Linked DNA regions of Homo sapiens. The protein of the gene in region 1 interacts with the protein of each later gene in a biochemical or structural test. Each region holds a gene or a part of one and is shown in the gene's direction. Other genes may lie near its edges.

Region 1 (3,500 bases):
AAGAGGCTTGTGATTCATTTATCTGCTGAGTAGGAAAACAGCTTAGTAGAGACAGAAAGAGTAAGGGTACCAGAGAAAAGATTATTAGTGGATCAAGGCCCTTTATTTAAGAGGTAGACTCCAGAGCACCAAGGAATGTATAAGTAATTAATGGTCCAATTGGAAATTTGTTTTTCAACTCTACAACTCAGCTAAAATGAATGTATATCTTAAAGATATCCAGTGAAGATAGACACTTTTATTTTTTGAGGATATTTGTTCCTCAATTAATTCCTGGAAATCATTTCTTTTATAATGCCCTACAATTTAAAAAGAGATGTATCAATATTTTAAACATTATTGGCAAAAGGGTGAGAATATCATCTATAAATTTTGCATCAACAGAATAGCTATTTTCATTTTTCCATTTTATCTGTTACTTTCTTAACCCTATACTGTTTATCCATTCCAGGAAGTTAATACAGATTTCTAAAAGCAAGTTATATAGTATGAGTTTACTCTATTTGGTATGCTATTTAAATGATACTACTTTTTCTTCTTTTTTCCTCCCAATAAGGATCAAGATTCCCTAAAGAAAAGCCAAGGTGTTGGTCCAATTAGAAAAGTTCTCCTCCTTAAGGAAGATCATGAAGGCCTTGGCATTTCAATTACAGTAAGAAGTAGTACTTCCAGTATCATTTTCTACAGTTATCTAGTATAATCATGCTCCTTTGTTGGACATCACTGGGGAACAGAATATTCTGGATATATTTTTTAAATAACTAAAATTTATCCCCATGGGGATAAATGTTTGCTTTTGTGTAAATATTTTTTTAAGAAATAAATATTCCTAGCAACTATTAAGTGTACCTTTAGTAAGCATAGTTTAACATTTTTATTATGATTCACTTAATAGTTCTGTGCCATATACTGTGATGCCTCTAGGAGCCCTTGGGAATAGACGTGGCTGTTTTCTTCTATGTTAAATGGCTTCAGATTGTATTGTTCTCTCTCGGAGTACGTGTATCTTTCTCTTGCCTCATTTATTAGCTGTCAGATTTCACTGGCTCTTGGGTCCAAATGTTATATATTCTTTTTTTTAAATTCGATGCCTTTAGGAGTCATTTTGTTGTCATCTCAGTGCTTTAATGAATAAGGTGGCTTTAATTTTCATTTGGTAATACTTAGGCACTGAGCAAGATCATTTGTTTTTTTAGTATTGCTTAATGTAGAAATGTTTCTTATAATAAAAAGCTCATCTAATCTATATTTCTTGAATACTTACCTTTTTTTTTTTTATGTGCTGCCTTCAAAGAGCATACATTTTAGCAGGACAAATAAGACACACACACACACCCCTACACACACGCAACAATGATATAAGCTAGAGAGTGATAGGTACCAAATACTGCATTTTTTCAATTCTACATTGCATATATTTTCATATTTTAACTTCTCTGAAATTGAAATTTATCTTATAATCTTAAAATTATTTTTGTGGCACCTAAAATAATTGGTCTTGTCATTCGTAGTGATTTAGACTTGATAAAATGTAATGGTGCTATGGAGTACTAACACATAAGTTTTTTTTAATTTAAGAATTTAGCCAATTTCTGTTCAATACTCTGATAATTTTTACCATTACTTAAGTAGCAAATAAAATTTTACCCAGCATTTATAGAGACAGCATAGGTGTTTAATGAAATATATTTTTAAGAAAATATTTTATCTCTAGATTAATCGGTAACTGTACCTTACAAAGAGTACTTTAATTTACTGCCCTTTGTTGTTGTTAGGGTGGGAAAGAACATGGTGTTCCAATCCTCATCTCTGAGATCCATCCGGGGCAACCTGCTGATAGATGCGGAGGGCTGCACGTTGGGGATGCTATTTTGGCAGTCAACGGAGTTAACCTAAGGGACACAAAGCATAAAGAAGCTGTAACTATTCTTTCTCAGCAGGTAAATTCCCTTCATGTAATTAGAACTGGATCTATCAATTGGTTATGAATCTATTGAACACTGTATACTTCCCTACGAAGTTTCTAAAGTAGTAAAGTGTTTACACATAGTTCTTGTTTCCTTTGATTTAATGCTTTTATAGCTGACATTCAGTCAGATTTACTGAAAATGGACCATTCCATTTTGTTTACTTCATAACTTTGAGCAAGTTACTTAAGTCCTCTGTCCCTCAGTGTCCTCACCTGTGTGGGAGGGATTGAAAGAAAGCTGTGAGGATTAAGTATGTTAATACATATAAAGTACTCAGAACAGGACCTGAGACTGAAAAAACAACATCCTTAATGCCTAGAACACTATATATAAGGTATTACAGAAAAGACAGTGCTAGAAGTAGATTGATTTTAGTCATGGAATATTAAAATTGAAATCACACATAGAAACTATCTAGCCCAACTCTCTTAAAATGAGTAAACTAAAGTTCTTAGCGATGAAAGGATTTACTCAAAGTTGCCAAGCAAATAAATTATAGAATTGAGATTCATACTCAGGAGTCATATTTGTCATACAGTTGTACTTAAAATGTTGTTTTATTTTATTTCTTTCAAGAATAGAGTTGAGGGAATTAGAGGCATTGGTAGTACATTGAGATGTTTCTTGGATTATCAGTGTGGTATGCCTCTGTAGAATTGCATCTCAGAGTTGAAAGTGAATATTGTTCATTGGTTCAATTCTATATGATGCATAAATCTTTGCAACATCACTACTTCAATAATTACATTACAGGGAAGACTTGCTGATATCAACCAGTCCATTCCATTGTAATACAGTACTGATTTTTAGAAAGCTTTTTCTCATATTAAGCCTGAAATCTGTGTCTCCATGACAGCTACTCACAGATCTAATTCTGTCATCTAAAACTTTGCTGAAGACCACTGCATCATCTGTCTCTTTCTGCAAAATGGTATTTTTAAAGCATTAGCTGACAAGAGAGATCTAAGAATGCTACGCTATTCTCTTAAGTTAGTGTTTTATCAATCCATCTTGACTGTCATCCAGTAGCAAAAGAGTGGGATAACTGGTGAAGGAGCTATCAATGGGCAGCCATAAGTTTTAAGGAAATGCTAACTAAGCACATATTAAAATTCTGAGGTATAACCTTAAACTGCTGGGAAAGAAGAGCACCAAAGAGACTAACTTAGTGAGTAGCAGTCAAAAATGCCGTGTTTTCTTTTGAGCAAAGGCAAGCCATAGTTTTCAGAATTGCCAACACCACACTTATATGTAGTGGTTGGAGTCTCTTATTAAATGACAATTATAGCTTGGAAATTTTTCTTTTAACATAAAACGATCTGTAACATTTTTTTCTTTTTTGGAGCCAGGATCTCACTTTGTCACCCAGGCTGGAGTGCAGTGGCACAATTACGGACCACTGCAGCCTCAACCTCCCAGGCTCAAACAGATCCTCCGACCTCAGCCCCCTGAGTAGCTAAGACTACAGATGCCTGCCACCATGGCCAGCTAATTTTTTTTTTTTTTTTTTTTTTTGTAGAGATGGGTTTT
Region 2 (3,500 bases), on another chromosome or scaffold:
TTCAGTTTTCTAATCTGTAAAATGGGAATAATAAAGATAGTACATCAGTGTTGTGGGGACTGAACTGACTTAAAGCTTTTGGCACCTACCAAGCACTCAGTACGTGTGTGTTTGGTTTAAAAAAAAAATAAATTTTATGGCCGGGCACGGTGGCTCATGCCTGTAATCCCAGCACTTTGGGAGGCCAAGGCAGGCAGATCACGAGGTCAGGAGTTTGAGACCAGCCTGGCCAACATGGTGAAACCCCGTCTCTACTAAAAATACAAAAATTAGCCAGGTGTGGTGTCGAGTGCCTGTAATCCCAGCTACTTGGGAGGCTGAGGCAGGAGAATTGCTTGAACCCGGGAGGCAGAGGTTGCAGTGAGCTGAGATCACGCCATTGCACTCCAGCCTGGTGACAGAGCAAGACTCTGTCTTGAAAAAAAATAAAAATAAAAAAATAAATTTCATTATGTGCATACAACATGATATTATGGGATACATATAGATAGTAAAAATGTTACTACAGTGGAGTTAAGTAATATATCCATCATCTCACATAGTCGCCCAGGAAATGTTTTAATATTGCAGTTAGAGTTTTCTTTCTCAAAAGTTAATTCCCTGGGGATCTTGTTAAAATGTAGATTTTGGCCGGGCGCGGTGGCTTACACCTGTAATTGAAGCACTGTGGGAGGCCAAGGCAGGCGGATCACAAGGTCAAGAGATCGAGACCATCCTGGCCAACCAACATGGTGAAACCCCGTCTCTACTAAAAATACAAAAATCAGCTGGGTGTCATGGTGCACCCCTGTAGTCCCAGCTACTCGGGGGGCTGAGGCAGGAGAATCGCTTGAACCCAGGAGGCAGAGGTTGCAGTGAGCCGAGATGGCACCACGGTACTCCAGCCCAGGCGACAGAGAGAGACTCTGTCTCAAAAAAAAAAAAGTAGATTTTGATTCAGTCAGCCCTGAAATTCTACATTTCTTCTTCTTTTTTTTTTAACCAATGAATTATTTTTACTCTTTTTAAATAAGTGAAATATTAGCTTTAATGTTTTCTGATCATGACAATATTTTTAGATAAGAACATTTTAAACATTCAACAGTAAGAGACTATTGAAAATAAATGAAATTCATTGAATAGAAGTAATTAAAATAATAATGTAACTCTTTAAGCATTGTAATGGAAAGATGTTAATGATATATTGTTACGAGCCCATTATTGGGAAAAATGTATTTAGGAATACGTATGGAGGGAATTTATTTATTTATTTTTTTGAGACGGAGTCTTGTTCTGTCGCCCAGGCTGGAGTGCGGTGGTACCATCTTGGCCCACTGCAACCTCTGCCAACCGGGTTCAAGTGATTCTCCTGCCTCAGCCTCCCAAGTAGCTGGGATTACAGGCGCGTGCCATCACCCGTGGATAATTTTTGTATTTTCAGCAGAGACGGGGTTTCACTATGTTGGCCAGGCTGGTCTCGATCTCCTGACCTCAAGTGATCTGCCCGCCTTGGCCTCCCAAAATGCTGGGATTACAGGCGTGAGCCACCGCGCCTGGCCTTGAAATTCTACATTTCTAACCAGCTCTCAGGTGTTGCTATTGGTTTTTGGATCCACACTTTGCAGAGCAAGGGTTTAGAGCTGATGAAGCCTCTGCCCAGCTGCCAGCTCACACATTCCTGTGAAAGAGCCAGGGGGTGGGTCTGAGGAGCCCCATTTTACAGATGAGATGACTGAAGTAGGGGTGGGGAAGCTCGCTTGCTGGACATTGAGCATTTGGAAGCTGGTTGTAAGGTGGAGCTCCCACCAGTCCTGGCTGAAGGGGTCATTTTCCTGGGGTAATGGACCTCACTCACACAGCTATTCTGACCTTACAGATGACTTGGAAGACTCCATGATCGGCCCTGAAGTTGTCCATCCCTTGGTAAGTAGCTACATGCTTCTGCCTCTTCCACTTTGCTCCTCTATAGCAGACCTATTGGGAGAGGCAGAAAATACAGCCCCCATAGGCAGAATAAGTGAGGGGTCTTACCCCACTATGCGGGAAGGCTTTTTAAAAATCTGGCCCTGGGGTGGGCATGGTGGCTCAGGCCTGTAATCCCAGCACTTTGGGAGGCTTGAGGTCAGGAGTTCAAGACCAGCCTGGGCAACACGATGAAACCTGTCTCTACATAAAATACAAAAATTAGCCAGGTGTGGTGGCATGTGCCTGTAGTCCCAGCTACTTGAGAGGCTGAGGTGGGAGAATGGCTTAAGTCCAGGAGGCAGAGGTTGCAGTGAGCCAAGATTGTGCCAGTGCACTCCAGCCTGGGTGACAGAGCCAGACTGTGTTAAAACAAACAAACAAACAAACAAATCTGGCCCCAGGCTCATTTTGTAGGTTGCTGGTAGGCCATCCTCCCTGCAGGGATAGTCACCGTCAACACCAACTCCTTTTCTCTACATTTATAGCTATTTCCTAGCATTGATAGAAAAGTATATATATAGGCCGGGCACAGTGGCTAATGCCTGTAATCCCAGCACTTTGGGAGGCTAAGACGGGCAGATCACCTGAGGTCAGGAGTTCGAGACCAGCCTGGCCAACATGGTGAAACCCTATCTCTACTAAAAATACAAAAAATTAGCCTGGCACAGTGGCGTGCGCCTGTAGTCCCAGCTACTTGATTGGGAGGCTGAGGTAGGAGGATCGCTTGAACCTGAGAGGCAGAGATTGCAGTGGGCAGAGATTGCACCATTGCACCCCAGCCTGGGCGACAGAGACTCCCTCTCAAAAAAAAAAAAAAAAAGTATATATATATAATTCTATGAACTGCGTTTTTCACTTAGACTGGTCATGAGTATTTCCCTGCATAATTTAATGCTCTTGTCATTTTTATAGGCTGCGTAATAGTTTACCTGATTCCCTTTATTGACGGAAAAATGGCTTATAATTTGTTAACATTTTAAAATTATAACACTGCAGCAAACATCTTTTTTATTTTTGCAAAGCAATAACAAGTTTATTAAGAAAGTAAAGGAATAAAAGAATGGCTACTCCATAGGTAGAGCAGTGGCATTGGCTGCTGGTTGCCCATTTTTATGGTTATTTCTTGATTATATGTTAAGCAAGGGGTAGATTATTCATGAGTTTTCCAACAAAGGGGTGGGCAATTCCCAGAACTAGGGGCTCCTCCCCTTTTTAGACCATATAGAGTAACTTCCTGACTTTGCCAGGGCATTTGTAAATTGCCATGGCACTGATGGGAGTGTCTCTTAGCATGCTAATGTAGTATAATTAGCATATAATGAGCAGTGAGACCAACAGTTTCATTGCCATCCTGTTTTTGGTGGTTTTTGGCAAGCTTCTTTATTGCAACCTGTTTTATCAGCAAGGTCTTTATGACCTGTATCTTGTGCAGACCTCCTATCTCATTCTGTTACGTAGGATGCTTAACTTACTGGGAATGCGGCCCAGCAGGTCTCAGCCTTATTTTACCCAGCCCCTATTCAAGATGTAGGCACTCTGGTTCAAACACCTGACAT
Region 3 (3,500 bases), on another chromosome or scaffold:
GGAGACCAGTCTGGGCAATAGAGGCAGACCCCATCTCTATAAAATATAAAAAATTAAACAGATGTGGTGGCATGCACCTGCAGTCCCAACTACTTGGGAGGCTGAGGCAGGAGGGTCACTGGAGCCCAGGATGTCTAGGCTATGATGAGCTATGATTGCACCACTGCACTTCAGCCTGGGCGACAGAGCAAGGCTTTGTCTCAAAAAATAAAATAAAAAATAAAGAAAAAGAAAAGGCACTTTGGGCCGTTAGAATTGAAGGGAGAGCAGAGTTTCAAAGCTTTGGATGCAGCGGGATGTGGTGGCTCATGCCTGTAGTCCCAGCACTTTGGGAGGCCAAGGTGGGAGGATCCACTTGAGCCCCGGAGTTCAAGACCAGCCTGCGCAACATAGTGAGACCTCACCTTTTAAAAATAAATAAAAATGTTAGAAAGCTTTTGAGGCATCTTCCAGGCCAGCAACTTATCCATTCAGAACCAGCATCCTCTTTTTCATAACGACATTTTGTAATACTTTCTAGCAGATGCTATAGTGATTCTGCATATAGGGACTCAACAACTTACCCATTAAAATAGACATCGTAGACATTGTCCTATTACAAATTAACCTGCTCTTAGTCCTCTTTTATATTACCATCAGGGCATAATATTGATTTTTTTAATGATGGGTTTAAGTGATCCTGTTGTATGACATATGAGGTAGGCCAGCACTTCTCAAAATCTAATGTGTATGTGAATCCCCAGGGATCTTGTTAAAACACAAATTGTAATTCCGTAGGGCTAAGGACTCAGTGGAGCCTGAGATTCTGCATTTGCAACGAGCTCCCAGATGAGGCTGATACTACTGGTCCAGGGACCACATTTTGAGTAATGAGACTCTGGAGGACATAGTGAAGTAATTCTGATATGTACACCATACACAAAATCACCATGAAGTGACAGGCACAAATGATGGCTAACTCTGGGTTGTGTGGACAATTCAAACCACATGAGGGGAGTTGCCAGCAGTGTCAAGATGTTCCACAATGTTGAACACCTCTTGGCAAAGTTCCATATACAAAAGAGTCTAGTCTTTCTTCCATTTATTTAATAGTTGCATTGCAGGAAAATGCAATGTATATTAAAAACATACAAAAAATATGTTGTGTTCTTATGTAAAAGAGTTAGGTTTAAACTAAAAGCACAGGATCAGGTGCAGTGGCTCCCACCTGTAATCCCAGTGCATTGGGAGGCTGAGGAAGGAGAATCGCTTGAGGCCAGGAGTTCGAGACCAACCTGGGCGACATAAGGAGACCTCGATCTCTACAAAAGAAGTTTTTTAATTAGCCAGGTGTGGCGGCAGGTGCCTGTAGTTCTAGCTACTTGGAAGGCTGAAGCAGGAGGATTGCTTGAGCCCAGGAGTTCAAGATTACAGTGAGCTATGATTATGCCATTGCATTCCAACCTGGGCAACAGAACAAGTCCTTGTCTCAAAAAAAAAAAAAAGAAAGAAAGAAAGAAAAAACCCAAACAAACAAGCAAACTAAAAGCACAGGTAATTACAAGCAAGATTTTTCACCTCTTTGAGGGACATTAGAAAGTCATGAAGAGGAAAAGATAAGTCTTTCCCATATGGGACTGTCATGTACATGGTAGGGTATTTAGTATAACTGCCTACCATTCTCTAAGTGCCTGCAGTGCCCCTCAATCATTATGTTATTAGGTTTCCACGTAGTTCTACAACAGTTTTCTGAAAACCATTGTTCTAGGTCATTCTTTCGCTTCAATCTTCTCCTATGGGTTTATGCATTCATTCAGTTAGTATTTACTAAGTGCCTACTATATTCTAAGCTCATGCTGTGAGTTCAGTCACACAACTGCAAGTGAAGTGGTCTGAGACATTCTGAGAAATACGACCAAGAAACTGCTCCCAGGGTCTCAGGGCAGGTTTCCAGAGGAGCAATCTGAGAAGGGAGTAGAGTGTTTCAGTCTAACAACAGCATGTGCAAAGGCCCTGGGGTGGACCAGAAGGAGGCCAGTTTGCAGGACATGACTAGTGACGAGAAAGTGACAAAGAAATTGAAGGTGCATTGATGAGACTCTGGGGCTGTCAGTCACTCAGGGGAATGAGAGATCAAAACGGGAGTTTAGGTGGAATAAAGTGTTTACCACAGCACTCTCTGTATAGTAAAGACCAATGAAGAGCCAGGTACAGGCCAGTGTGATGGTTCACGCCTGTAATCCCAGCACTTTGGGAGGCAGAGACAGGTGGATCACCTGAGGTCAGGGGTTCAGAACCAGCTTGGCCAACATGGCAAAACCCTGTCTCTACTAAAAATACAAAAAATTAGCCAGGCGTGGTGGTGGACGCCTATAATCCCAGCTACTCAGGAGGCTGAGGCACAAGAATTGTCCTGCGAGGCAGAGGTTACAGTGAGCTGAGATCACACCACTGCACTCCAGCCTGGGCAACAGAACAAGACTCTGTCTCAAAAAAAAAAAAAAAAAAAAAAAGCCAGGTACAGTGGTATGCACCTGTAATCCCAGCTACTCAGGAGGCTGAGGCAAAGGATTGCTTGAGCCCAGGAGTTCGAGACCAGCCTGAGCATTTAGAGAATGGGAGGCCAGTATACTAAATACCCTACCATGTACAAGACAGTCTCATATGGAAAAGAATTATCCTTTCCTCTTCATGACTTTCTAGTGCTCCTCACACAGGTGAAAAATCTTGCTTATAATTATCTGTGCCTTTAGTTTGTTGGTTTATTTAGGGTTTTGTTTGTTTTTTTTTTTTTTTTGAGGCAGGGTCTTGCTCTGTTGCCCAGGTTGGATTGCAGTAGCATTGCTCATTTTAGAGATGAGCAAGACCTCATGTCTAAAAAAAAAAGAAAGACCAATGATTATTAATTACTCTTGCTATTATTACTAATATTACTGTTATTATCAGCCTTATTAACAGATCTACTGTTATTGAAGGAGGCAGAGTGACAGGGACAAAATGTCTCTCCCTAACAATATGCCAGGAAGAGTTTTTGAAAGACAACAGTAAACATTGGAAACTACAAGAGCAGCAAAGCCTGGTTGTGAAAGGCAAGGACTTTGGGGCAGGCAGTCACATTCCTGCCCTATCACTTCCAGGCTGTGTGACTTTCAGAATTTCACTCCTCTCTGGGCCTCCATTTCCTCATCTATAAAATGAAGATAAGAATAGTAGCTACCTCCTTCTCTGGGTATAAGATTTAACTGAGCCGGGCGCGGTGGCTCATGCCTGTAATCCCAGCACTTTGGGAGGCCGAGGTGAGCGGATCACAAGGTCATGAGTTCAAGACCATCCTGGCTAATATGGTGAAACCCCATCTCTACTAAAAATACCAAAAAAAAAAAAAATTAGCCGGGCGTAGGTGGTGCACGCCTGTAGTCCCAGCTACTCGGGAGGCTGAGGTAGGAGAATGGTGTAAAACCCGGGAGGCGGAGCTTGCAGTGAGCCGAGATCGCACCACTGCACTCCAGCCGGGGAGACAG
Region 4 (3,500 bases), on another chromosome or scaffold:
GATCAGCAGAGCTGATGGATTTTTGTATTTTATTGACTCCAGGCACTTTTTGTTTTCTGTTCGCAGCCTCGTGATGCAGGAATGTTTTGTGCTTTATTGAAATCTTAGTTTCTATTTTGACATGGTTACAGACAATACATCAATGGGTATAGTGCTTAAATTTCAAAATGCACAAGTTCTATTCACATTGAACCATCATGATCAAAGCCTGAAATAAAACACCTCCTACTTGACATTTATGTAAACTGTATAACATTTAGTTGGACTTCACACTTGTTTGGTGATTTCAAGGTAGAATTGGATGCAGCCAGATCACCTTCATAATTCCTGTCCAGTGCACTCATTTCTCCTGCTGCACAGTCAATTTGTATTTATTTTGATATAGCATGTATGAATACAAAAACACATACACATCCATGCCCTGACTGAAAAGTCTATTGTAGTTAACAGCAAACAGTAAATCAGTCTATCGTTCCTGGGCTGTTATCTTTCTCTTTCAATTTCATAAGCTCTGAGAATAAAGGTATTATCAAATGATCACCTTGCAAGTTTTCATCCTAATGTGCTAGGCAGTACCATTAGGATAAACAAGTTGTTAAACTGAAAATATTTAAAAATCAGCATAACTGACATTTCTGTTTTCTAAAAATCTCCTCATCAGTCCCAGATGAACATTCCACTTACACAATGCTTGCTTGTGGCTGAAGCTGTTCTAAAATTGTATACATGCCAAATTGTATGACACAGAGGGAGACAGAGGTTGTGGAGAGAAGCTGTGTATCACACCTGATAGAAAAAGGGTCTTCATGGAGCATGGGCTATGACTTAGCCACGTAGCTTCCATTGAGCTCAATAGGATAGCAGTCACATGTTAGATATTTCCACAAATGTGTATTCTACTTAATGAACGTGGGTGTGCAACTTGAAGATGTCAACAGAATTGTGCAGTTAAAAGAAGTGGTGATATTTGAAAAAAGGCTGGGTGAACAGAGGCATGGGGTGAAAATCATCACAGATCATGGCGGTGGTAGAAAGGATGGTTGGAATTCTTTTAGGAAAGCCTTGGCTAGACTTAAGTTGCTTTATCAAGTTGAAGATATAATCCAAAGTGAAAAGATTCTTAAAAAATAATCCCCCTTTAAGTAAACTATTATTATTGTACATATGTGAAGACTAATGGGTAGAGAGAGACTTAAAAGGATGCGCGGCCTATAGATGTTAATTGGGATGAGTGCCGTCAGTGTGGTGGTTGAAGTATTATGCTGAGTACTTTAAATAGTTCCAAATTATAGTGAACACATAAACCTTCCTTGGGAACTTATAATTTTATGCAGCTTTCTTTGGTGGCAGTATAAACATAACATTTTATGGGTTTTATTAATAAGAATATTGTGAGGAATGCAAATTTAGAATATTTTATTCATTCAACAAATGTGTATTGTCTGCTGGCCATTTGTGCCAGGCATTGCTCTAGGCTTCTGGGGATACAGAAAGTACCAGAACAGGTAAAATTCTCTGCTTGCTCTCATGCAGCTTACACTGTTGTGGGAGGAGACAGACAGTAAATACTAAGTGATATGAGCAAGAGTCACTTCAGATAGTGATATATGCAAAGAGGAAGTCTAAAACATGGGAGTTAGAGGACGCTGGGTAGTACTGAAGTTAAGAATGGCCTAGGAAGGTGCGTTGAAAGGATGACATTAGATCAAAGACTTCTCAGAAGTGAGGAAGCAAAGAGGCCTTGAGGAGGAAGGGATGACAAGGTCAAGGGCCTTGCTGTGAATGGGTGCCTGGTGCACCCACCCGTTTGAAGCACCATGGGAGTCACAGCAGCTATTGTGAGTAGAGGGGTAGCAGGAGATGGCGTCTGTATGGTGCTGAGGCATCAGTCGGTGCAGGGTGTGGTGAACCATTATACAGAATTTGACTTTCATTCTAATGGAATGAGAGGCCATTGCACAGTAGTGAGTGAAAAATGCCATGATTCAGGTGCTGAGAACAGGCCACAAAGGCAAAAGGCGTAAAAGCAGGAGGACAGGTGAGGAGGCCCTGCGTCCCGTAATATTCATGAGAGGATGGTCTCTTGGGCCAGGGGATAGCAATAGAAGTGGCATAAAGTATTCAAATACTGACTATAAATAAAATTTGCTTATAAATTAACTAGTAAGAAGAATGTGTCTGTTTTATGAACATAAAATCAATATTTGCATTTTGGATGATTTGCATTTTGAATGACAGTTGCAGTTGTATCAATTGCAGCTCATATGATATCTTCATTTGGTTTTGGTTGCACAGGAAATTCTGATTTACTTGGGTGTTGAAAGTAGCTTACTTGGGCCGGGCACGGTGGCTCACGCCTGTAATCCCAGCACTTTGGGAGGCCGAGGCGGGCGGATCACGAGGTCAGGAGATCGAGACCATCCCGGCTAAAACGGTGAAACCCCGTCTCTACTAAAAATACAAAAAATTAGCCGGGCGTAGTGGCGGGCGCCTGTGGTCCCAGCTACTCGGGAGGCTGAGGCAGGAGAATGGCGTGAACCCGGGAGGCGGAGCTTGCAGTGAGCCGAGATCCCGCCACTGCACTCCAGCCTGGGCGACAGAGCGAGACTCCGTCTCAAAAAAAAAAAAAAAAAAAAAAAGAAAGTAGCTTACTTGGCAATGCCTGGACACTCTGCTAGACAGATTGCATTTGAAAGGGGAGTTAAGTAGAAAAATTTTGTTTCAACGTTGTATCACCAAAAATGTCTAAGTATGGTTCACATTCTTATAAAAGACTAGAAAAATTTAATACTTATTCTAAGTATTAAACTGTAATGCAGAACTGTAAGGAGAAAAATTACTACTTATTCTAGGTACTAAAACTGTAAATGAAGAACAATAAGGAAATTCATTAAACTGTTACTTCTTTATGCACAATTCATGGTTAGGCCTATGATGAGAATATGCAATGAGCAGATGTGCCTGGTCCTTGTTGTGTCTTGTGCTGCTGTACAACCTGTTTCAATTTTATATGCATAAACTCTCTGTGTAGCTCGAATTTTTTTTAAGACTAATTTAGAGCTACAGTTTTCTTAAACAATCATGCAGTTAAACTATTTTCAAATGATGGCAGAGATCCTGGTGGCATAAAGTAATGCTGCTGTTCTCTGCTGTAAAATATGGTGAGACATTTTTAATTGTATTTTTAAAAATAATTACAATTGTATATTTTTTTAAATTTTGGATCCAACTTTTTTTCAAGCCTCTTGAAGCATCTAAGTGGATCCCTGGGGTTAACAATTTATAAACCATTAATATATAGAAGGTATTAAAAGCACATGAAGACATATTGATATGGGAACATATATACATATTACAAGTGTTTGAAGCATTGTCATAGCCTTTGTTAGAGAGTAGAATTTAACATAAAGTGGGTTCCTGAAGGAGCCCACTTGTGAGGATTTGAGGACTAAAATAGGATCTAAAAAGGTTATTTCCAGCCCGGTTTTATGGCCTATACA
Region 5 (3,500 bases), on another chromosome or scaffold:
TTGGAGGTTTATGATAATGGCAGTGACACAGGGAGAAAGGTCTTAACAGATCAGAGGTAAAGGGAAGTTTTTCTATTAATATTTATAACTTACTGAGGAGCAAAAAGTTAGAGAAACAAAAAGAAGAAAACAAAAAGAGGTAACTGGGATGAAATCACACCCAATAAAGATACTCGGTATTACAAATAAAACTGCACTCTTTCCTCTCATTCCTCCCTTTAAGATGGTTCTGAAATCTAAGGACAAAGTTAGAAAATTCTATTCTCTGGTTGAATAAAACAAGAATCATCATGCTATGGGTGGACTGTCATTCCCTATCAATGGAAAATTTTGCAAAAGAAATAACACTTTTTAGGGAGTAAATCTTAGAATATTCTCCAAAGCAAACAAGAAAACAGTATGAAAAATAAATCAGGGAAAAATAATTAGGGAACTCTAAAAAGTTAGAAAAATGTTGAAAAAGAGCCAATGGAAATAACAAAGGCAATCTAAAAAGATAGAAATTCAGGGAGAAAATAATTAGAATAAAACTTTGTTGATGTATCTTCGTTACTGCCCAAGGGAAAAAGATAACTGTATCTGAAGGGAAAATTGAAGTATTCCCTTAGATACAGATGCTGTGTGATTTACCAGGTGTAGTTCACTGTGACCTAACTTAAGTGTGCTTCATGAAATTCCCCTTGCTGTGATTCAAAACTCAGAATTACACATTTGATTCCTAATTTCATTTCCAGGGACCATGAAGTATTAATACGTGGGTGCCCTGGGCAGTAGACACATCATTTCAGACATGGGAGCAAGATCTCCCACTGTAAAGTAATAAATTATTTGTTTAGTTTTTAAGTCATTCTCTCAGGTACTTGAATAGTGTGAACTGATTTCCCTCAGCCTGATTCCCCCAGAGAGACCTAACCAAATCAGGCTTCTAAATCTGGACACTTTAACAACAGACCTCAGTGACCCCAGAAAACTATAGCATCCCATGACACGACACACAGACCAGAGCAGCCACCTGAGCTCCTTCAGCCCAGGGCTACCATTGTGCACTGCCATGAATTTCCCAAGGAACCTGTGTGGGAACTTGAGCCTCTGTACTTTCTGAAGTCAAGGAACGCGGGGAGGAGGCCAGCATCTGTAGCTCTGGCATCTGGAAGAGGATTGCGGTCAGCTTTTTGAAGTTCAGCCATCGCTGTGATCCTGTGGCTATAATGTTTAAAACTGAAGAATTTATAAACTGCATTTTATTGACTTGAAAGAGGATAAAATGGCATGGGGTGGCGGGATTTACTGCCTTTTTTTTAAGTTTCATAACAGAGATGGTTAAATGATGAGAGCTAAGCTCTGAAAGAGCTTGGGTACAGCAGTTTTAAAGCTAAGTGTTTAATGTAAAGACTATTGAGCCGAGGGCAGTGGCCCACGCCTGTAATCCCAGTACTTTGGGAGGCCGAGGCGAGCAGATCATGAGGTCAGGGGTTCGAGACCAGCTTGGCCAACATGGTGAAACCCCATCTCTACTACAAATACAAAAATTAGCCGGGCATGGTGGCGCATGCCTGTAATCCCAGCTACTCAGGAGGCTAAGGCAGGAGAATTGCTTGAACCCAGGAGGCAGAGGTTGCAGTGAGCTGAGATCGTGCCACTGCCCTCCAGCCTGGGTGACAGAGCAAGACTCCATCTCAAAAAAAAAAAGACTTGAGGCCAGGCACAGTGGCTCACGCCTGTAATCCCAGCACTTTGGGAGGCCGAGGCGGGCAGATCATGAGGTCAGGAGATCGAGACCATCCTGGCTAACACGGTGAAACCCTGTCTCTACTAAAAATACAAAAAATTAGCTGGGTGTGGTGGCGGGCTCCTGTAGTCCCAGCTACTTAGGAGGCTGAGGCGGGAGAATGGCGAGAACCCGGGAGGCGGATGTTGCAGTGAGCCGAGATCGCACCACTGCACTCCAGCCTGGGCGACAGAGCAAGACTCTGTCTCAAAAAACAAAATAAAACAAAAAAGACTTGAATGTAACTATCCCTTGTTTTTCACTATTTGTCAAAATTGGATCCACAGTCTCATTCCGCATCCTCATAGCCCCAGTGAAGAAATTGAAACCCAGAGGAGTTGGCTTTTTTGTATGTTGTTTGTGTTTTTGTTTTAAGACAGGGTCTCTCACTCTATCACCCAGGCTGGAGGGCAGTGGTTCACCTTGACCTTCTGGGCTCAAGAAATCCTCCCATCTCAGCCTCCCAAGTAGCTGGGAACACAGGTGCGTGCCAATACGCCCAGTAAATTTTTTTTATTTTTTTTATAGAAATAGGGTCTTGCTATGTTGCCCAGGTTTGTCTCAAACTCCTGGGCTTAAGCAATCCTTCTGCCTCAGCCTTCCAAAGTGCTGGGATTACAGGCATAAGCCACCACACCCAGTCCCAGAGGAGCTTTGAGACTCGCTCAGAACCAAGAAGTGAACTAATGACCAGATCCATTATGATGGCAACCTAACGATTGAGATCCATTATAATGTTTACATTTGTTGCTCTCAGCCAGCAGCAGGACCATCTGTCTACGATGACTTACTTCTTCACCAGAGTTGCCAGTTCCCTGCTCTCCACAGTCCCCTGACCCAAGCAAGGCAGAATGCTGCCCTGCACAGGAGTGAAGGTAGAGAGAATCATTAATCAGAAAGCTCCTGACATTTCCCTGTTAATCTTACTCTCCTCCTTCTGAGTGGATGGAAATCAGTCCAGAGAAAAAAAAATCAATCAATTTCTTTTTTTTTTTTTTTTTTTTTTGAGATGGAGTCTTGCTCTGTGGCCCAGGCTGGAGTACAGTGGCTCAATCTCCGCTCACTGGAAGCTCCGCCTCCCCGGTACATGCCATTCTCCTGCCTCAGCCTCCCCAGTAGCTGGGACTACAGGTGCCCACCATCACGCCCGACTAATTTTTTGTATTTTTAGTAGAGACGGGGTTTCACCGTGTTAGCCAGGATGGTCTCCATCTCCTGACCTCGTGATCCGCCTGCCTCAGCCTCCCAAAGTGCTGGGATTACAGGCGTCAGCCACCGCGCCCAGCCAAATCAATCAATTTCAATTTTTTTGACATCCTACCTCAAGTCATGAGTATTTTTCAGTAAAAATTTTCATCAAGCCTGTTTTATTTAAACTTTTATTTTTAATCAATAAATAATAGTTAAATTAAAAATGTGATGTTTTGATAGATGCATATACATTGTAGAATGATTGTATCAAACTAACATATCCATTGCCTCACATACTTGTCTTTTTTTGTAGTAAGAACACTTAAAATAAGCTCTTTTAGCAATCTGAAATATATATTATTATTAACTATGGTCACCATGCTGTTCAATAGGTCCTGAAAACTCACTTTTCCTGTCTAACTGAAACTTCGTACTTTTTTTTTTTTGAGACAGAGTCTTGCTCTGTCACCCAGGCTGGAGTGCAGTGGCACAATCTCAGCTCACTACAACCTCCACCTCCTGGGTTCAAGCAATTCTGCCG
Region 6 (2,687 bases), on another chromosome or scaffold:
ACAGGGAGGAACCAAGATGGGCATCAGGAAGCTTCCAGAACAGTGAGCATAGGAGGGCCGGAGGGGCAGTGTTGAGGGGCAGGGACTAGGACCTGGATCCTTGTGGCTTTAGCTTCCTGGTCTATGGACCCCAGTCTCTAAGCTGGGCCGGACTGGGTGGCACTGGCTCAGACCCTGTCATCAGAGCCACCTCTGCTGCCACCCTCCGCCTGCCGGGGCAGAGGAAGTCTTAGGTCCTGGTCCAGGCTCACCTGCTTCTGAGAGTCTTGGGGCTGAGTCTGAGTGGCCCCGAGGGAGCCCCTCGCTCCCCAGCATCTCACCTGTCCGGCTTCTCCTCCGCAGGCCCTGCGTCTTCCCAGGTGACCACGCCGGCTTCAGGACATGCACGGACACAGCCGCAACGGCCAGGCCCACGTGCCCCGGCGGAAGCGCCGCAACCGCTTCGTCAAGAAGAACGGCCAATGCAACGTGTACTTCGCCAACCTGAGCAACAAGTCGCAGCGCTACATGGCGGACATCTTCACCACCTGCGTGGACACGCGCTGGCGCTACATGCTCATGATCTTCTCCGCGGCCTTCCTTGTCTCCTGGCTCTTTTTCGGCCTCCTCTTCTGGTGTATCGCCTTCTTCCACGGTGACCTGGAGGCCAGCCCAGGGGTGCCTGCGGCGGGGGGCCCGGCGGCGGGTGGTGGCGGAGCAGCCCCGGTGGCCCCCAAGCCCTGCATCATGCACGTGAACGGCTTCCTGGGTGCCTTCCTGTTCTCGGTGGAGACGCAGACGACCATCGGCTATGGGTTCCGGTGCGTGACAGAGGAGTGCCCGCTGGCAGTCATCGCTGTGGTGGTCCAGTCCATCGTGGGCTGCGTCATCGACTCCTTCATGATTGGCACCATCATGGCCAAGATGGCGCGGCCCAAGAAGCGGGCGCAGACGTTGCTGTTCAGCCACCACGCGGTCATTTCGGTGCGCGACGGCAAGCTCTGCCTCATGTGGCGCGTGGGCAACCTGCGCAAGAGCCACATTGTGGAGGCCCACGTGCGGGCCCAGCTCATCAAGCCCTACATGACCCAGGAGGGCGAGTACCTGCCCCTGGACCAGCGGGACCTCAACGTGGGCTATGACATCGGCCTGGACCGCATCTTCCTGGTGTCGCCCATCATCATTGTCCACGAGATCGACGAGGACAGCCCGCTTTATGGCATGGGCAAGGAGGAGCTGGAGTCGGAGGACTTTGAGATCGTGGTCATCCTGGAGGGCATGGTGGAGGCCACGGCCATGACCACCCAGGCCCGCAGCTCCTACCTGGCCAGCGAGATCCTGTGGGGCCACCGCTTTGAGCCTGTGGTCTTCGAGGAGAAGAGCCACTACAAGGTGGACTACTCACGTTTTCACAAGACCTACGAGGTGGCCGGCACGCCCTGCTGCTCGGCCCGGGAGCTGCAGGAGAGTAAGATCACCGTGCTGCCCGCCCCACCGCCCCCTCCCAGTGCCTTCTGCTACGAGAACGAGCTGGCCCTTATGAGCCAGGAGGAAGAGGAGATGGAGGAGGAGGCAGCTGCGGCGGCCGCGGTGGCCGCAGGCCTGGGCCTGGAGGCGGGTTCCAAGGAGGAGGCGGGCATCATCCGGATGCTGGAGTTCGGCAGCCACCTGGACCTGGAGCGCATGCAGGCTTCCCTCCCGCTGGACAACATCTCCTACCGCAGGGAGTCTGCCATCTGACCTCCAGGCCCGGCCCTCACCACTGCCCACAAGAGCCTCTGCCGGGGGTGGGATGCCAGGACACCCCCTCCCACACTCAGGACAGAGCCAACCCTGGCTCCGTGGACCTTCTGGAGGAAGGTGGGGGTTTCAAAGACTGGGGGACCCCTTCCTCCTGACTCCAGCACCCAGGCCTGGGAAGAGCTCGGCCCCGATCAGCCTGAGTTCCGCCAGCGCCTACTTCTGGTGGCTCTAGGTCCCCGGATCCACCACCCTTCCCCCACTGACTCTTCAAGGACGTGCCCTCTTTGCTCTCAGAACCTTGGGGAAGGTGGCTGGACTGCTGGGCGGGGGACATCTCGGGGTTTCAGGGTGGGCAGGGGGTTAGTTTGGGGAGGGGGGGGTGCGTTTCTTTTGCATGACTGTGGCCTGTTGCTCATGACTTTCTTTTGTAAATATCTATAAATGGAGACAGATGGAGACACCAAATTCACTTTCTGCCGTTTTTACCTGCTGGACAGGGAGATGCAGTCCCTCTCTGTGCACCCCTCCCCACCCAGCCCATCAAGCCTAGCGCCTTCCCCTGCCCAGCTGGCTGGCCCCTTGAGGCCCTCAACGCCAGCCACCTTGGCCCTTGGATGGTGTTGGGTTTGGGTGCAGAGGAGGGACTCTGAGGGGTGGGATGAGGGACCATCCCTCCCTCCCTGCAGTCCCTCCAGCCCCGGGCCCAGCCCAGATTGACAACAGAGTTTGTAACCATATATATATATATATATATATATTTTTTTTTTATTTTTTATTATTATTTTTTTTTCTTGAGACGGAGTTTTGCTCTTGTTGCCCATGCTGGAGTGCAATGGAGCAATCTCGGCTCACTGCAACCTCCGCTTCCCAGGTTCGAGCGATTCTCCTGCCTCAGCCTCCTGAGTAGCTGAGATTACAGGCATGAGCCACCATACTCAGCTAAGTTTTGTATTTTTAGTAAAGAT
Region 7 (3,500 bases), on another chromosome or scaffold:
GTGACCCTCTGCTTCTCCTCTAGCCCCTGAGAGGACCTGCCGAGCAACTTTGATCAACGAGTCTCCAGTGCTAAGCTACATGGACCTCGTGGGCTTCAGCTACCAGGTGGCCAATGGCATGGAGTTTCTGGCCTCCAAGAACGTACGTGTGGTGTTGGTGGGGCAGAGTGGGGGCTGTGGGGAGGTGGGTCACCCAGCCAGCCAGCATCCTCCAAGAGCACACCAGGGTGGCCTCTCGCACATGGGCAGTGTTGTATTTTCCCAAAGCCCTTGACATGAAGGGTCTTTCCCCACAATTGTCCCCAAGGCCTCAGCTCCCCTCTCCCCAAACCCAGTGCGTCCACAGAGACCTGGCGGCTAGGAACGTGCTCATCTGTGAAGGCAAGCTGGTCAAGATCTGTGACTTTGGCCTGGCTCGAGACATCATGCGGGACTCGAATTACATCTCCAAAGGCAGCGTGAGTACCTTCCCTGGCCCCTGCAGGGCAGTCACAGTGCCTGTGACCGCAGGAACAGATTCCCTCCTGACCAGTGTGGCTGCAGCTCATAGGAAATCTGTGTGGGGCTCCTTGTGGCCTGCCCTGACAGCAGTGATGGGCTGTGCCTGCCCAGCTATGTGTGCAGGGACAGGATGGGGAGCCGCCCAGGAGTGCATGGAGCAAGTATAGCGGCGGGGAGGGCTGGCTATAATGGGTCCAGGGTGGGGGAAGGGGGAACAGGCCGAATGTGTTGTTCCAGTGGTGGTGGGCAGAGGAAGAAGCCCAGGTGACAGGGCAAGAAAGATGAGCAGGTCACATGCAGTAGCAGGGATTGGTCTGGTTAAAACGTGATCATCCTGCCTGTCTCTCATCTCCCCACTTTTCCGCAAACCCCAGATGGAGGGACGCTAGGCCCAGAGATCAAAGGCAGCCAGGATAAGAGCTTGGGGGGTGCCTTGACAAGTCCCTGGCTCCCACACTTCACTACTCAGACCCTGGGGCTTTTCCCCAGGGACAGGGGCTGCCTTGTCCCCAGCTAGTGAGAAAGGAAACAGCCTCTGGTCCTCTGACCAGCCCTGGGATGGACATGGGAACTGTGCTGCGCAGAGACCAGGGCCCTCACAGGGAATGGGACGGAGAAGTGGTTGTGGGTGGGAGCTGCCAGATACCCTCCTCCCATCCCAGGTGCAGAGTGGGGCTGAGGTCCTTCCTTGCACTCAGCACCTGTCCTGACCTCCCTACAGACCTTTTTGCCTTTAAAGTGGATGGCTCCGGAGAGCATCTTCAACAGCCTCTACACCACCCTGAGCGACGTGTGGTCCTTCGGGATCCTGCTCTGGGAGATCTTCACCTTGGGTATGCTTGCTTCCTCCTCCAGCCCTCAGCATCCTGGCCTGGTGTCTACCTCGACCACTCATGCCTCTGGCCTGGTGGGGCTATGGGACGAGCCCTGATACAGGGATCCTGGTTCAGGTCCCAGCTCTGCTACCTTCTCCCTGCTGTGTGATGTTAGCAAATTCTTTGCCCTCTCTGGGTCTCTTTATCTCCCTGTCTGAGCATTGACAGGTTTGAACAGTGACATCAGAAAGCCTGCTTGGCTCTCACATTCTGGCTGTCTATCCTGGGGAGGGTTGTGGTCTCTGTTCAGAGCCCATGAAGGAGCCCACAGTTCCAAATGCCAGGGGCACTGCCCCCTTACCCATACCAGGGCCAGCATGGCTCTCCTTGTCCTGTAGAAGAGGGTGCCCTGCCACTTTTCCACCCCTGAGCCTGTGTATCTCTTGTCTCTGCTCCCCAACAGGTGGCACCCCTTACCCAGAGCTGCCCATGAACGAGCAGTTCTACAATGCCATCAAACGGGGTTACCGCATGGCCCAGCCTGCCCATGCCTCCGACGAGATGTGAGTGGAGTCTCATGCATTTGGGAGGATTTTGTGCTGCAAACAATAGATATCCAACTCTACTGGCTTAAACCAAAGATGAGAGATTTGTTAGCTCAGAGATCTAGAAAGCCTTGGTGTAACTGGATCCAGCCATTCAAAGGATGGCATCAGGAACCTCTTGTTCTAGCCCTGAGCTCTGCTTTGCTCTGTGTGGCCTCATTTTCAGGCCAGCATTGCCCAAATGGCTACCAGCAGTGCCAGTCTCATGTCCTACTGCTTGCTCCATAGTGCCAGCAAAAGTCCCAGAGCTGACCTTCAAGGGCTCAGGTGGGGTCACATGCCATCAAGAACCAACCGTGGAAGCTGCAGGGCTGAAAACTGTTGGCGAAGGTTGGCTCCTGTGCTCACCCAGGCGTAGTCAACCTGTGGAACCATGTGGAATGGGGGCTCTGCGAGGGCCTCCCAAGGGAATATCCAGAGACAGGACCTCTGGATACACCCAGCCACCACTTCCCTCCAGCTCCTTTCCATGGCTCACCTTGTTCTGAGAGGCAGCAGCCTCCTGCTCCCCCAGCCCTGCCTTGTCCCCTGAACCCTGGGCCAGAGGCCCTGACCCTTCTCCCTATCCCCAGCTATGAGATCATGCAGAAGTGCTGGGAAGAGAAGTTTGAGATTCGGCCCCCCTTCTCCCAGCTGGTGCTGCTTCTCGAGAGACTGTTGGGCGAAGGTTACAAAAAGGTATGTTGAGGCAGGGTAGGGGTGGAGCACGGAGAGCTCTGGTGCAGAAGTCAGACACCGAGTACAAGGCTCTGCGTGATGGGCTGGCATTTAGGGGACCACCCTTTGTCCTCTCTGGGCCTCAGTTTCCCTGCTGGTTCTAGGAGGGGATGGGCTGGCGCTGTGAGTTTATTTTAGCAGCAGAGAGCTTTATGAAATGGAATCCTACATGGAAGCTGATCGATTAGATGCAGGGAGGGGGCCTAGAGCACTGTCTGTCCTGCTGCCTCCCTCAGGCCTTTACCTCCATACCGAACCGTGGGGCTCCTTCAGAAGTGTGAATAACCCCAGGTTACATGACCATGAACCGCCTGACCACTTGGATCCTGTCACAGGATTGTCCAAGGCCCAAAGAGCCAGTAGGGCCCTGAAACCCTGCCCCGTCCAACAACACGGGTCCAAGTGAGGAGGAAATACACATGGCCTTTGACACAGAGGCAGCTCCTTCTTTGGGTCCATTTCTCACCCCCACTGCCCCCCGGGGATGGTCCCAGGGACCTGGGAGATGGAGTAAGGTCATCACCACTTCACAGCAAAGGAAACTGAGGCCCTGAAGAAGGACGCTGAGGCAGCATGAGAGCCTGTGCCTGTCTGCTCTGAAGTGGGGGAAGAGTTAGAGTCCTGGGTGCTGGTCTGATAACTGCCCCTCCCTGGGTGGTCCTGAGCTCACCATGCCTTGTAAGATTCTATGTGAGGTAGGAGGGCAGCTCAACCATGTGGCTTGGGCAAATCCCTTTCCCCTCTGAGCAGCGGGGGTCTTATTTATACAAAGGGGGATGGGCTCGGTTAGAAGATCCCTGAAGGCATTTCTGGCCTGACCATCCCTGTTTCTTTGGTTCTCCCTGCCCCGGGAGCAGAAGTA

The links.
Region 2: the proteins of GOPC (region 1) and SDC4 interact in a test that uses a peptide from one of them, tested with the Homo sapiens proteins (one large-scale study listed by IntAct).
Region 3: the proteins of GOPC (region 1) and CACNA1A interact in a test that uses a peptide from one of them, tested with the Homo sapiens proteins (one large-scale study listed by IntAct).
Region 4: the proteins of GOPC (region 1) and CTNNA2 interact in a test that uses a peptide from one of them, tested with the Homo sapiens proteins (one large-scale study listed by IntAct).
Region 5: the proteins of GOPC (region 1) and OR10G3 interact in a test that uses a peptide from one of them, tested with the Homo sapiens proteins (one large-scale study listed by IntAct).
Region 6: the proteins of GOPC (region 1) and KCNJ4 interact in a test that uses a peptide from one of them, tested with the Homo sapiens proteins (one large-scale study listed by IntAct).
Region 7: the proteins of GOPC (region 1) and PDGFRB interact in a test that uses a peptide from one of them, tested with the Homo sapiens proteins (one large-scale study listed by IntAct).

What each region holds. Positions count from the first base shown.
Region 1 is NC_000006.12:117,568,012-117,571,511, reverse strand, and holds part of GOPC (Golgi-associated PDZ and coiled-coil motif-containing protein), read left to right. Parts: intron 1-556; coding exon 557-652; intron 653-1,653; exon of another isoform or gene 1,654-1,775; coding exon 1,776-1,940; intron 1,941-3,500.
Region 2 is NC_000020.11:45,331,425-45,334,924, reverse strand, and holds part of SDC4 (syndecan-4 precursor), read left to right. Parts: intron 1-1,855; coding exon 1,856-1,902; intron 1,903-3,500. UniProt on the Homo sapiens protein: Cell surface proteoglycan which regulates exosome biogenesis in concert with SDCBP and PDCD6IP.
Region 3 is NC_000019.10:13,293,480-13,296,979, reverse strand, and holds part of CACNA1A (voltage-dependent P/Q-type calcium channel subunit alpha-1A), read left to right. Parts: intron 1-3,500.
Region 4 is NC_000002.12:79,911,551-79,915,050, forward strand, and holds part of CTNNA2 (catenin alpha-2), read left to right. Parts: intron 1-3,500. UniProt on the Homo sapiens protein: May function as a linker between cadherin adhesion receptors and the cytoskeleton to regulate cell-cell adhesion and differentiation in the nervous system. Required for proper regulation of cortical neuronal migration and neurite growth.
Region 5 is NC_000014.9:21,573,577-21,577,076, reverse strand, and holds part of OR10G3 (olfactory receptor 10G3), read left to right. Parts: intron 1-3,500. UniProt on the Homo sapiens protein: Odorant receptor.
Region 6 is NC_000022.11:38,425,827-38,428,513, reverse strand, and holds the end of KCNJ4 (inward rectifier potassium channel 4), read left to right. Parts: intron 1-342; 5' UTR 343-381; coding exon 382-1,719; 3' UTR 1,720-2,187; downstream 2,188-2,687. UniProt on the Homo sapiens protein: Inward rectifier potassium channels are characterized by a greater tendency to allow potassium to flow into the cell rather than out of it.
Region 7 is NC_000005.10:150,117,846-150,121,345, reverse strand, and holds part of PDGFRB (platelet-derived growth factor receptor beta isoform 1 precursor), read left to right. Parts: intron 1-23; coding exon 24-142; intron 143-335; coding exon 336-458; intron 459-1,222; coding exon 1,223-1,334; intron 1,335-1,779; coding exon 1,780-1,879; intron 1,880-2,493; coding exon 2,494-2,599; intron 2,600-3,495; coding exon 3,496-3,500. UniProt on the Homo sapiens protein: Tyrosine-protein kinase that acts as a cell-surface receptor for homodimeric PDGFB and PDGFD and for heterodimers formed by PDGFA and PDGFB, and plays an essential role in the regulation of embryonic development, cell proliferation, survival, differentiation, chemotaxis and migration.